Regions from separate parts of the Homo sapiens genome. Here region 1 is linked to region 2. Evidence: fine-mapped expression QTL. Tissue or cell type: monocytes after LPS. Region 2 holds a variant in brackets; the other region holds the start of a gene. All regions are shown on one strand. Distances are between the middles of the regions.

What was found. PIP is the estimated chance that this variant, and not a neighbour inherited with it, causes the effect.
Region 1: it holds the start of LIN7B, and the variant in region 2 is fine-mapped to the expression of LIN7B in monocytes after LPS (Fairfax 2014, PIP 0.95).

The regions. Positions count from the first base shown.
Region 1 is chr19:49,111,834-49,117,760 of GRCh38, forward strand. LIN7B (lin-7 cell polarity scaffold B) reads left to right here and starts at 2,537. Exons shown (of 6, transcript NM_022165.3): 1 at 2,537-2,608; 2 at 3,016-3,134; 3 at 3,427-3,498; 4 at 4,430-4,639. The coding sequence starts at 2,572. RefSeq lists a silencer at 2,357-2,936.
Region 2 is chr19:49,300,389-49,308,321 of GRCh38, forward strand. The region is part of intron 7 of SLC6A16 (solute carrier family 6 member 16); the gene reads right to left. Among named protein-coding and RNA genes, the nearest start is that of MIR4324, 4.5 kb to the right of the region's middle. RefSeq lists an enhancer at 1,166-1,245. The variant G/A (reference allele first, on the strand shown) is at 3,356.

The sequences.
Region 1 (5,927 bases), 190 kb before region 2:
TTTATTTTTTATTTATTTATTTAATTTTCCAAGATGGAGTTTCGCTCTTATTTCCCAGGCTGGAGTGTAATGGCACGATCTCGGCTCACTACAACCTCCACCTCCTGGGTTCAAGCTATTCTCCTGCCTCAGCCTCCCAAATAGCTGGGATTACAGGCACCCGCCACCACGCCCAGCTAATTTTTTGTATTTTTAGGAGAGATGGGGTTTCATGAAGTTGGCCAGGCTGGTCTCAAACTCCTGACCTCAGGTGATCCGCCCGCCTCAGCCTCCCAAAATGCTTACAGGCGTGACCACCACACCTGGCCTCACTTTTTTTGTTTGTTTGTTTGTTTGAGACGGAGTTTCGCTGTTTTTCCCAAAGCTGGAATGCAATGGCATGATCTCCGCTCACCGCAACCTCCGCCTCTTGGGTTCAAGCAGTTCTCCTGCCTCAGCCTCCCCAGTAGTTGGGATTACAGGCATGCACCACCATGCCTGGCTACTTTTGTATTTTTAGTACAGACAGGGTTTCTCCATGTGGTCAGGCTGGTCTCCTGACCTCAGGCGATCCACCCGCCTCGGCCCCCCAAAGTGCTGGGATTCCAGGCGTGAGCCACCATGCCCAGCCACACTTCTTTTTAAAAACACTCGCAGCCAGACACAGCGGTTCGTGCCTGTAAACTCAGCACTTTGGGAGGCCAAGGCAGGGGGATTGTTTGAGCCCAGGAGTTCAAGACCAGCCTGAGCAACAAAGACCCCTCCATCTAAAACAAACAAAAAAAGAAGATAAAATTTAAAAACCCCTCTTCTCATGGTTTCTCCCACCTGGGTTTCTGCCTACATTTCAGGCCATTCTCTGCTGTCCTCCTGACTTTTAAGTGTTAGAGAGGTCTGGGGACCAGTTCTAGGCCGTCTTAATATTCGCTTGCCCCTGACATTCTTATCCACTCCGGTGGTTTTATTTACCACCTATGCCCCAATATTCAAACATGCCTGCAGACCAGGTTGCTCTTTTGAGCCCTAGACCTAGATCGATAGTTTCTCCCCATGGATTCTGCATAGGCTCCTCAAATTCAAAATATCCAGTATCGGCCAGGCAAGGTGGCTCGCGCCTGTAATCCCAGCACTTTGGGAGGCTGAGGCAGGTGGATCACTTGAGGTCAGGAGTTCGAGACCAGCCTGGCCATCATGGTGAAACCCCATCTCTATGAAAAATACAAAAATTTGGCAGGTGTGGAGGTGCACACCTGTACTCTCAGCTACTCAGGAGGCTGAGGCAGGAGAATTGCTTGCACCCGGGAGGCAGAGGTTGCAATGAGCCGAGATCACGCCACTGCACTCGAGACTGGGCAACAGAGGGAAGACTGTGTCTCAAAAACAAAATATCCAGTATCCCTCTTTCAGTGTAGACCATCTTAAAAATGGCACCAAAGCACCTTAATACTGTCTTCTCCTGCACCTCCCAATCCCCTTATATAGCCAAGCACCAAGGCTTGTCTAGACATTTCCCACATCTGCCCACCCATCTTCTGTGCTTTGGCCCTGGTGCTAGCTGCCACCTGGATGGCTGTGGTAGCCTCGTAAGTTGCCCCGCTGCTTCTCCTCTTGTTCTTGTCCAAACCAGTCTCCACAGTGGCTACAGTGATTTTTTTTTTTTCAATAGATACGAGGTCTCACTATATTGCCTATGCTGGTCTTGAACTCCTGGGCTCAAGTAGTCTTGCTGCAGCCTCCCAAAGCGCTAGGATTACAGGTGTGAGCCACCGTGCCCGGCCCCAGTGATCTTAAAATACAAATTTGAGGCCCAACCTGGGCGACAGAGCGAGGCTCCGTCTCAAAAATAATAATAATAATAATATAATAATAATACAAATTTGAGTGTCATATTTTTCTCTTAGGAGTTTGCATGAAGCCCCAAATCCTCAAGGCGCATATGCCAACGCAGGAGCCCAGGCATAAACTATCCTGCCGACCTTTTCACCTCATCATCAACCAATCCTAACTCTGCTTCCAGCCACGTGGGCTCTTTCTGGGTGGTGGGGGTGACCCAAGCTCCACCTCTTGTTCATCTTACCTCCCAGGACTGTATGTCAATGTCCCTCCTCTAGGATTTCCTTCGTTTTCTAGATCATCACCTCCCCACTCTCAGCTCTCATCACAGCCGTAGTTGGTCGTCTACCTCCCCTATAGACTGGAAGCTTCGTTCGGGCCGTGGGCTTGGCTGTCCTGCTCACCACGGTGTCCATGACTTGGGCTCAGATGTTTCACAAGAGTTTGTTGAATGAATGTGGGGAAAGGATGGACAGGGGATAGACGGGTGTGGAGGGCAGGCAGACACGGATCCTGAAAGGTACACACAGACCGAACCTGCAGTGGGAGGGGTCGCCAACAGGACCGACTGGCCGGGGCGGAGGGCAGGGCGCGGCTGGCGCGCGGCAGGTGGTCGGAGCAGTCGGGCGAGGGAGAGCTGGGCGCTCTCCAGGCTGCGCCTCCGCAGGGGGCGCCCGTGGCCCGGGGCGTGGCCTCGCGCAGCCCCGCCCTCCTCGCCGGCGCCAGGGCAGGCGGGCGGCTGGCAGCTGTGGCGCCGACATGGCTGCGCTGGTGGAGCCGCTGGGGCTGGAGCGGGGTAAGCGTGCGCCAGGGGGCCCTGCCCACCCGGGCCGCGGCCTACATACCCAGCCCCCGGTCCCCGCCCTTCCCGGGTCAGGCCAGTGCGGGTGGGCCAGCGGACCCGGAGGGGGTGGGCGGGGCGGGCGCCGGGGCCGGGCGGTCGCTAGGTGTGGGAGGCTCCCTGGGCGCGGGCCGGGACGCTGGGCGCCCGCCTTACAACCCGGCCTGTGGAGGGGTCCCGGGGCCGCAGGGCCGCTGGTGGCAGTCTCTCCTGCGCCACCCTGGACTCTGCGGGGTGTCCGACTAGGCTTCGGCCGTCCTCCCCGGACTGTGCGCTCGGCCTCACTCCGCCGCTCTCCTTGCTTCTCTGCGTCTCGGGGTCTCTGACACTCGGGGTTTCTGCGCCCCGCCCCCGCCCCGCAGACGTGTCCCGGGCGGTTGAGCTCCTCGAGCGGCTCCAGCGCAGCGGGGAGCTGCCGCCGCAGAAGCTGCAGGCCCTCCAGCGAGTTCTGCAGAGCCGCTTCTGCTCCGCTATCCGAGAGGTGAGGGGCGCGCGGCGCAGGGGCGCGAGCTGGTGGCCGTCGTCCTCCTCCTCCTCCTCCTGCTTGTCCCGAGCCCGGAGACTACGCCTCCCGGCAGCTCCCGAGGCGGCCCGCCTTGGGGTGCCAACGCTTCAGCTCAGGGGTTCTTCGGGAGTTGTAGTTTTCTCGGCCTTCTGTTGCGGGGGCGGGGCGGATCCTTGCGTGGTAGCGGGAGAGGGTCTAGAGGCCTGAACTCCTGCGTCTAGGGCTGGAGGAGCTGGCGACTCCCTGATGCCGCTGCCTCCTCACCCAGGTGTATGAGCAGCTTTATGACACGCTGGACATCACCGGCAGCGCCGAGATCCGAGCCCATGCCACAGCCAAGGTGGGCCCCGCACCCCATTGCTCCTGGTGTCTATTTAACTGCCTAGTCGAACTCAATATCTCCTTCATGCCAGTCATTTCTGTTTCCTCCCTCATGATTTTTGCTAAATCTATGTGCCACCTTACTATTAGTAAATAATCGCACATTTTTAACTTAAATGTCATACTAAGGCATCTTTAGCAACTGCAAATGGAAACAGTATGGCATGGTTGGTAGAAGATAACCTTCAACATCTGTACAGTGCAAACCAGGAAACTCATGGCGCTCTGACCTCTCACTGCACAATAGTTAGATGCTGCTACCTCTTGCTGCTGTCCGGAGGCTCAGATCTCCCTCCAGGCCTGGCTTTCCTCTGTTTAAAAGTAAGATTGAGGCCAGGCACGGTGGCTCACGCCTGTAATCCCAACACTTTGGGAGGCCGAGGCAGGTGGATCAGTTGAGGTCAGGAGTTCGAGACCAGCCTGGCCAACATGGTGAAACCCCGTCTCCACAGAAATACAAAAAAAAAAAAAAAGAAAGAAAAAGCCGAGCGTGGTGGCGAGTGCCTGTAATCCCAGCTGGATTACAACTCCGGAGGCTGAGACAGGAGAATCGCTTGAACCCAGGAGGCCGAGGTTGCAGTGAGCCGAGATCATGCCATTGCACTCCAGCCTGGGCAACAGAGTGAGACTTCATCTCAAAAAAAAAAAAAAAGTAAGATTGGCAAGTATGGGGTATTCAAGACACACACCAAATGGACACTTTCTCTTGCAAGTGAACAGAAAGAGACGCACAGTCATTACAGGGGGATCGTGCATTGTGCCATGACAAGTGTCCCATGCTTGGGGATAGTAACCCAGGCTAAATCGCTGTCCTCGGTCCACATCCCCCACCCCAGCTTTCATGCCTACCTGGAAGGGGCCCTCATCTTCAGTCGCTTTCTCTCTCCCAGGCCACAGTGGCTGCCTTCACAGCCAGCGAGGGCCACGCACATCCCAGGGTAGTGGAGCTACCCAAGACGGATGAGGGCCTAGGCTTCAACATCATGGGTGGCAAAGAGCAAAACTCGCCCATCTACATCTCCCGGGTCATCCCAGGGGGTGTGGCTGACCGCCATGGAGGCCTCAAGCGTGGGGATCAACTGTTGTCGGTGAACGGTGTGGTGAGTGGAGGGCTGAGGCAGGACTGGGGGACACAGTCTGTCTAACGTAGCATAGCCCCTGCTTTTGACATTCACTCAACACACACTGAGTGTTGTCTGTATGGCTAGCCCTGTGCTGGGCAATGTTACAGACTCTGAGAGATGTTGGCCTCAGCTCCCTACACTCAACCTTCTCTCTCTGGGGAGGGCAGTAGGCCCCGGCTGAAATAGTCCTAATCCAGAGACATAATAATGAGGAAGTGCAAAGTATTGTGACAGCCCAGATGTGGCACCAGGCCAGCATAGATACAGGAAGGTTTTGCAGAGTAAGGAACATTTGGGTTGGGTGTTAAAGGATGAGTAGGAGTTCTCCAGGCAAACAAGGTACAGGGTGTTCCTGCTGAGGGTACTGTAGATAAGGATACTGACTTGGCATACCTCTGAGCTGAAAAGAAAGGGCTTAGTTCTGATGGAGGTCTGGGGCATGCAGGTAATTAAAATCACTGTGGTTAGGCTGGGTGCGGTGGCTCACACCTGTAATCCCAGCACTTTGGGAGGCTGAGGCACGTGGATCACTTGAGGTCAGGAGTTCAAGACCAGCCTGGCCAACATGGTGAAATCCCATCTCTACTAAAAATACAAAAATTAGCCAGGTGTGGTGGCAGGCACCTGTAATCCCAGCTACTTGGGAGGGTGAGGCAGGAGAATCGCTTGAACCTGGGAGGCAGAGGTTGCAGTGAGCTGAGATAGCACCACTGCACTCCAGCGTGGGTGACAGAGTGAGACTCCCTCTCAAAAAAAAAAAAAAAAAACAAAACTCACTGTGGTTAGAGTTGAGGGAAGCATAACTGGAGAGATGGCTGGGGTCAGCCATACAGGACCTGAGTGCCAGCCTGAGAAGCTGGGACTTTGTCCCATGGGTGCTGGGGAGCTATGGGAGGGGTGAGCCAGGGATAAACTCAGCTTGCAGGTGCAGAAGGACCACTCTGGGACTCTATGGGAGATGAACTGAGGGGAGAGATTAGAAGCCAGGCCAGGGAGGAGGCTGGGGTAAGAGTCCAGAGAAAAGAGGACAAGGCCTGAGCTGGCCCAGGGCTGTGGGGACAAAAAAGAGGGAGTCAAGGCGGGCGGACATTAGTGGGCTGTGGGCAGGGAGGCCACAAAGATGGGTCTGGACGTTTGGCCAGGGACTGAGGGAACACGGGGCTGTCCCTGACATGGGAATCCTGGGAGGTTTTGGAGGAGGACACTGAACCAGGAGTTAATGACTCCCACGAGGAGGACATGAGGCATTGACATCTCAGGGCTG
Region 2 (7,933 bases):
GTAAATGGATATAAAGAGTTTTGGAGCCCTTATCTTGAAAGACAGTGAAGTACTGATTACCTTTAGACATCGATAAATTAAGAATGCATATTGTGAATTCTGGGGAAATCACTAAATCACTGAAAGAACAGAAAACAGAGTGGATAACTTCCAGACTAGTGGAGGAAAAAAAAAATGGAATGATAAATAACTACTAAGTCAATCCAAAAGAAGGCAAGAAAAGAGAAAAAACAAAATACAGACCAGGAGAAACAAATAGCAAAGTAAGATGGGAGACAGAGCCAATTATTTCCTATCATGATGGCAGAGAAAGGGATCCAGCCTCCCTTTCTCTATAAAGAGCAACAATTTGGCAACTATCCTTGAACAACAATTACTCTGGGCCGGGCGCGGTGGCTCATGCCTGTAATCCCAGCACTTTGGGAGGTTGAGGCGGGAGGATCACTTGAGGTCAGGAGTTCGAGACCAGCCTGGCCAACGTGGGGAAACCCCGTCTCTACAAAAAATACAAAAATTAGCTGGGCATGGTGGCACGTTCCTGTAATCCCATCTACTTGGGAGGCTGAGACAGGAGAATTGCTTGATTCCGGGAGGCGGAAGTTGCGTGAGCCGAGATCAGGCCACTGCACTCCAGCCTGGAAGTCAGCGAGACTCCATCTCAAAAATAAATAAATAAATAAAATAAAATAAAAATTACTCTGGAAGAATTGAGAAGTCGGCTTCAGCTGACTTTTAGTGGGAGAAAGAACCCTAGAAAAACCCATACAGAAAGGGTGGAAAGAACAATTCCATTTTGCCCACATCACCCCATCCCCCGAGCCAGCACTGCTCAGCATGGAGAGGGAATTCCCTGGCTCGCATAACCCTCTTTCAGGGATAATGAGAGCAGGCTATACCACCAGCTTCCCTAGTGTTTTGGGACACTGCCCAACCAGCTTCAGTTTCACTCCATTCACATTTCCGTGGGGACTGGCATTGCCGAGACTTACGGAGATAATGGGGAACCAAGAAGTGGGACAGGCTGTCAGTATCAGCCATGCTGGTGGGAGCCACAGCGCCCCCTAGTGGCCTGCTCAACACGGGTCTCTAGCACACTTCTGTACTGAGGACCTCAACAGCACTCCTGGCCACTGTGCAGCTCCCCACAGTTTTCACCACCAAGGACACCTTGGTGTTACCAATGGCTGATGCCAGCACCATTTTCTGCAGAGGAACCAAGCAGCTTTCACAGCTGAGGAAACCAACTGCCAGCACTGCAGCAGCAAAAGCCCTGTAGTTTTTTCCACCTTCACAGTCTCCAGGTGCCTGGCCCTCTAATTTCTCCTTCCTCTGTCCCTGAAACCACCTAAGCTGTTCAATACCATGGTCACCCAGACCAGACCCAGGGACTCACCCCAGTGGCCATCGCATTCTCTGGGTGCCTAAGCCAATACCCCTCCTCTATGGAGTCACCCCAGCTGCTGCCTCTACAAGTGCTCTGAGCCAAGGACCCAGCACAGCTACCATGCATGTGCCTGCACACAGCCATGCCTCCCCATCCCCAGGTTCTAACTCCAGCATCACGTTTGCACCCTCAGCTAGGCCCCGCGGCTGCATGTGCACACACGCCTCCAGCTCAGCCCTGCAACTGCCCACGTACATGCAGATGGACTGACCTCTGTGGCCAGACTGCAGCAGGCCCCTGCAGTTAGGCACAAGCTGTCAGGCCCCACTGCCACATGCATGCCCTTAGTCAACCCCAGCCCCTGCCTCTGACTCCACCCCTTGCCACCATTAATGAGCCTGCAACTAGCCTCTGCTGCCATGCTTGTGCCTACAGCCAGCCTCTGCAGCAGAGTGTGTGCACACCACTGACCCCAGCCTCCACTGCTGCGAGTCCTGGCCCCTAGATGCTAGGCAAGAGGCACAGCTGAGGTCCCAGAAAACTCTGTGGGAGGTTCACAGCCACTGTGGACCTCCCACAGCTGTTGCCACCAAGGACCATGCAGGTATCAACATCACAGCCCCCAGCTGCCTGTGCTAACAAGACTCTGTGTCCCTCCAACCTGGACCCACCACACGCACCCCCACCCACAGTTGGCACTCTGTGCCACTGGACCCAGTGCCAGAGAGCACCACTCTTCTCCCCAAAAAAAGCATTTGAAGTTAATGCTTCTTCAAATGCTTTTCTCAAGACTATAAAAATCATGAAGAATTGGAGAATCATGATAACACCAAAGGAAAACAATAAACTTCCATTAGCTGACTCCAAAGAATAGCAGATCCACTAATTGCCTGACAAAGAATTCACAATAATGGTTCTAAAGAATCTCAGTCAATTATAAAAGAACAGAGAAAACAATTTAACAAAATCAGGAAAACAATAGAACAACGAAAGAAGAGGCTAAACAAAGGCACTGAAAATATGAAAAAGAACCAAACAAACATTTTTGAGCTGAAGAATAACAATAAACAAAAAATACAATAGATGGCTTCAACAGCTGACTAGAAAAGCAGAAGAAAGAATAAGCAAATTCAAAGACATCATTTTAAATCATCCAGTCAGAGGAGAAAAAGAAAAAGAAATGAAGATAACCAAAGAAAGTCTACAATATCTATGGGAGGCCATCAAGAGAACACTTACATAACAAGATTTACAGAGGAGAAGAGAAAAGGACAAAGTTTATCTTTAAAAATAGCTGAATACTTCCCTAATCTGGAGAAAGATACAAACATCCAGGTACAAGAAGTTCAGAGGTCTCTAATAAAATTCAACCCAAAGAAGAGTTCATTGAGACATATTATAAACAAATTATTTAAAACTGAAGACAAAGAATTCTGAAAGCAGAAAGAGAAAAGCATATCACATATAAGGGAGCCCCAGTACAAGTATCGACACATTTCTCAACAGAAATCTTGCAGTCCAGGAGAGAGTAAGATGATATATTCAAAGTGCTGAAAAAAAATCTGACAACCAAGAATACTTTAAAAAGTATGTAGGCCGGGCAGGGTGGCTCATGCCTGTAATACCAGCACTTTGGGAAGCCAAGGCAGGCGGATCATGAGGCCAGGAGTTCAAGACCAGCCTGGCCAGTATAGGGTTTAGTAGAAACCCTGTCTCTACTAAGAATACAAAAATTGGCTGGGCATGGTGGCGCCCACCTGTAGTCCCAGCTACTTGGGAGGCTGAGGCAGGAGGATTGTTTGAACCCGGGAGGCAGAGGTTGCAGTGAGCTGAGATCACGCCACTGCACTCCAGCCTGAGTGACAGTGTGAGACTGTCTCAAAAAAAAAAAAAGAAAAAAGAAAAAAGAAAAAAAGCCACACCATTAGAACTGGTCTCATCTAACGCCCTTCAGTCATTTGATTTATACAA[G/A]TGATAAGGTTTGGGGCACAAAACTATTATCATATTACTATTAATTTTACTTTATATTTGCCCTTTTTAAAACTTTGTATCTGTCACTTGTTAAATTTTTACAGAAGTACAACTCCTAACAAAATAATGCTGGCCCAGCCAAACACTTTGAGATGATAACAAAAGACTATGGAACAGACAAAATTGAACTTCATAATGGACCTCAGATAGACTTAGCCTAAGAGATACCCCCTTCAAATGTCCCTTGTTGCTCAAATGTGGCTACAAGAGTTTGACACTGACTCCAAGTCACCCATCATTCCCCTCAATGTGACATGAGACCAGCAACTGGGACAGGCCCATCATGACATTGAGGGACAGGAAAACCCAAATATGAATGATTGATCAGTGATGCTTTTGGAGAAAGATCTTGATTAAAAGAGGAAATGTGAACGTTATCAGAATAAAATGGAGTCACTAATGTTAAGAAAGCCCTAGCAAATTGAGTCAAGGAAGGCCATAAAGAGAGGGTTCTCACACTTGTATGTCTGATTAGAAAAACAACTACAAAAACTATAACCACGCATAAAGGCCACTGCAACCTTACACACACAAAATATTCCTGCAGAAACATCTGCCCAACAAACGCCTATCCAATCTTGGACTGGTGTCACCCTTGTTATCGATCTCTGTAGTCAAGGAAAATTATTTCAAAACAATTATGTTATCCTCCTCATTTTTTTCCTTTAAAAACCTTTGTTGGCTGGGCGTGGTGGCTCAAGCCTGTAATCTCAGCACTTCGGGAGGCTGAGGTGGGCGGATCACCTGAGGTCGAAAGTTCGAGACCAGCCTGACCAACATGGAGAAACCCCGTCTCTACTAAAAATACAAAATTAGCCAGGCGTGGTGGCACATGCCTGTAATCCCAGCTACTCGGGAGGCTAAGGCAGGAGAATCGCTTGAACCTGGGATGTTCAATGCACTCCACCAGGTGAGAGAAAAGAATTTTAATATATACAACTGGAAAATGACTACATATCCAGAACATATAAAGAACTCCATAGAAAAAGATAGATCATCCAATATTTTTTTTAAAATGGGCAAAAATGAACTTGACCACACATTTTGCTTTAAACTATGACAATACAAGTATTTGCACGAGTGAGGTAATGAGAACTTCCATACACACATTTCATATACATACAATTATAAATTGGCACAGATACTATGGAAAGTAATTTGGCATCATCTGTGAAGTTGTAGATATATGTGGTAGATTGAATAAATACAGCCACAATATTTTGGAGCTCCTCCAATTAAGAGGTAAAGTCTATTTTTCACCTTTGGAATCTGGGGTAGCTTTTTTACTTCCTTCAACCAAGAAATGTAGCAGCAATGGAAGCAGTCCTATACTTCGCTTCAAGACACTTTGCTGAGTCTGCCTTTGTGCTCTGTGAGCTACCATGTGAAGAAGACCAAACTAGCCCCATGGAGAGGCCTCATGGAAGAGAGCAGCCCTTGCTGGCCAGCCAACTGACTACAAACAGGAGTGAACCCAGCCACCACCACTTAAAGAAGAGCAGTGCCGGCTGGGTGTGGTGGCTCACGCCTGTAATCCCAGCACTTTGGGAGGCCAAGGTGGGTGGATCACTTGAGGTCAGGAGTTTGAAACCATCCTGGTGAACATGGTGAAACCCCGTCTCTACTAAAAATACAAAAATCAGCTGGGTGTGGTGGTGGGTGCCTGTAATCCCAGCTACTCGGGAAGGTGAGGCGGGAGAATCGCTTGAACCCGGGAGGCGGAGGTTGCAGTGAGCCGAGATTGCACCATTACGCTCCAGCCTGGGTGACAAAAGCAAAGATCTGTCTCAAAAAAAAAAAAAAAAAAGAAGAAGAAGAGCAGTGAGCAGCGCCGTCCCTGCTGGGCTCAGCCCCCAGCCAACCCTCCAGCTAAATGCAGCCATGTCAGTGAACCCATACAAGCCCAGCAGAAGAGCTTTCCAGCCAACCCGCAGAATCATGAGATAAATCATTGTTGTTTTAATCCATTTACTTCCAGAGTGATTTGTTACCCAAGAATAGACAACTATGCCCCAACAATCTAACTCATATCCCAGAAAAATGTGCACATATGTAGTACATCAGGAACATGCATAAGAATGTTTGCAGCAACATTGTTTTAATAGCATAAAACTGGAAAGACTCCAAATGTTATCAATAGTTGAATGGATTTTTAAAAACTGTGGTATATTCATATACTGAAACATTATACAGCATTTTAAAAGCACAGATTAGGCCTGGCGTGGTGGCTCACGTCTGTAATCCCAGCACTTTGGGAGGCCGAGGCGGGCGGATCACGAGGTCAGAAGATCGAGACCGTCCTGGCTAACACGGTGAAACCCTGTCTCTGCTAAAAATACAAAAAATTAGCCAGGCATGGTCGTGGGCACCTGTAATCCCAGCTACTTGGGAGGCTGAGGCAAGAGAATGGTGTGAACCCAGGAGGCAGAGGTTGCAGTGAGCCGAGATCACACCACTGCACTCCAGCCTGGGCAACAGAGCGAGAGTCTGTCTCAAAAAAAAAAAGAAAAAGAAAGAGCACAGATTAAAGTTATACACAATATGGATAAATATTGCAAACATGTTGGATGAGAAAAAGAAAGCACAAAAGTAAGCAAAGAGAATGTATATATGAGGGAACAAATAACTAAACATATTGCTTTATATAAGTGGACAAATTATATTGCTTAGCTATGCATACATAGATGATAGAATATAAAGAAAAACATTAATCACTATCCTTAGTTCTTTGTTTTTTTTTTTTCTTTTTTTTTTTTTTGAGAGAGAGTCTCACTCTGTTGCCCAGGTGGAATGCAGTGGCACAATCTCAGCTCACTGCAGCCTCCACCTCCCAGGTTCAAGCAATTCTCCTGCTTTGGCCTCCTGAGTAGCTGGGACTACAGGTGTGTGCCACCACGCCCGGCTAATTTTTGTATTTGTTAGTAGAGATGGGGTTTCACCATATTGGCCAGGCTGGTCTCAAACTCCTGACCTCGTGATCCATCTGCCTCAGCCTCCCAAAGTGCTGGGATTATAGGCATGAGCCACCGCACCCGGCTTGTTTTTCTTTACATTTGATCATCTATGTATGCGTATCTACTAAGCAATATAGTAACCACTATCCTGACTTTTATGATGGTTACCTCTGGGAGGCAGTAAAGAGATTATGATTAGAAAAAGATACACAGAGAGCATCTAGGGTTATTCTAGTTCTTAATACAGGTGATGTTTACTTCACGGTTCGTTACACAGTGCATTGTTTTATACACTTTTTTTTTTTTTTTGTTAGAGGAAGGGTCTCGCCCAGCTGATTTCAAACTCCTGGGTTCAAGCAATCCTCCCACCTCAGCCTCCCTAAGAGCTGGCATTACAGGCGTGAGCCACTGCTCCCGGCCTTGTTTTATGCATTTTTCCATATGTAGGTAATAGCTCATAATAAAAGGTTTTTTTGAAAATACACAAAAAAACTACCATTACACTCCCACCAGACTGGAAACAATTTAAAAGTCCAACCAAGTTTAATCAAGTGTTGTGCAAAAAGTAGAACAAATGGAAGTCTCACACATCCCTGATGGGAGGGCAATGCATTACGCCACTTTGAAAACCAGACAATATATGATAAAATTGAAGGGGAGCACACCCTACTCAGCAATTCCTTTCCTAACTATATGCTGTCAAGAACTCTTGCACACGCACACATGTATATTCCCAGGCATCTTCTAGAAGAAAATGGTGGTTATTTGTGAGGGTTAGGGTTACTAGGAGAGGTCGGGCGCGGTGGCTCACGCCTGTAATCCCAGCTCTTTGGGAGGCAGAGGCAGGAGGATGGCTTGAGCCCAGGAGTTCAAGACCTGCCTGAGCAATATAGTGGGACCCTGTTCTCAAAAATTTAAATTAAAAAAAAAAAATCTGCTGGGAGAGAGAGGAAGAGGAGGAGGAAGCAAAAAAAAAGAAAAAGAAAAAAAAGAAAAAGAAAAAAAAAAGATTACTGGGAGAAATTCAACTCAGGGTTGCCTCCTCTGGAAGGCCCCATCTGACTAGTCCAGACAGAATTAATGGCTCTGTCTCCTGTCCTCACCCATCACTTCAGTTACCAGTTAGCACAAGTTTTTGGCTGTCTCATTCTCCTTTCCTTCCCCCTCCAAAATTGAAAACTTAATGAAACAAGGACTGTGGTCTGATTCACCTGTCCAAGTCTCTGTTGTATAGAAAGAACACTTCCTAAATGTCTGTCTGATGGATGTTTTTGGAATTAATGCCTAAAAATAAGAAAAATAAGAAACAGGGGTGATCAGACAATCAAGGTTCTAGTACAGAGAATCCTTTTGGAGTTTCTGCTAGATTGACAGAAATCCCCAATTCAGGAGTTAACAGTTAAGAATGGGGGCCTTAGGGCGCGGTGGCTCACGCCTGTAATCGCAGCACTTTGGGAGGCTGAGGCGGGCGGATTATGAGGTCGGGAGATCGAGACCATCCTGGCTAACATGGTGAAACCCTGTCTTTACTAAAAATACAAAAAAATTAGCCGGGCCTGGTGAT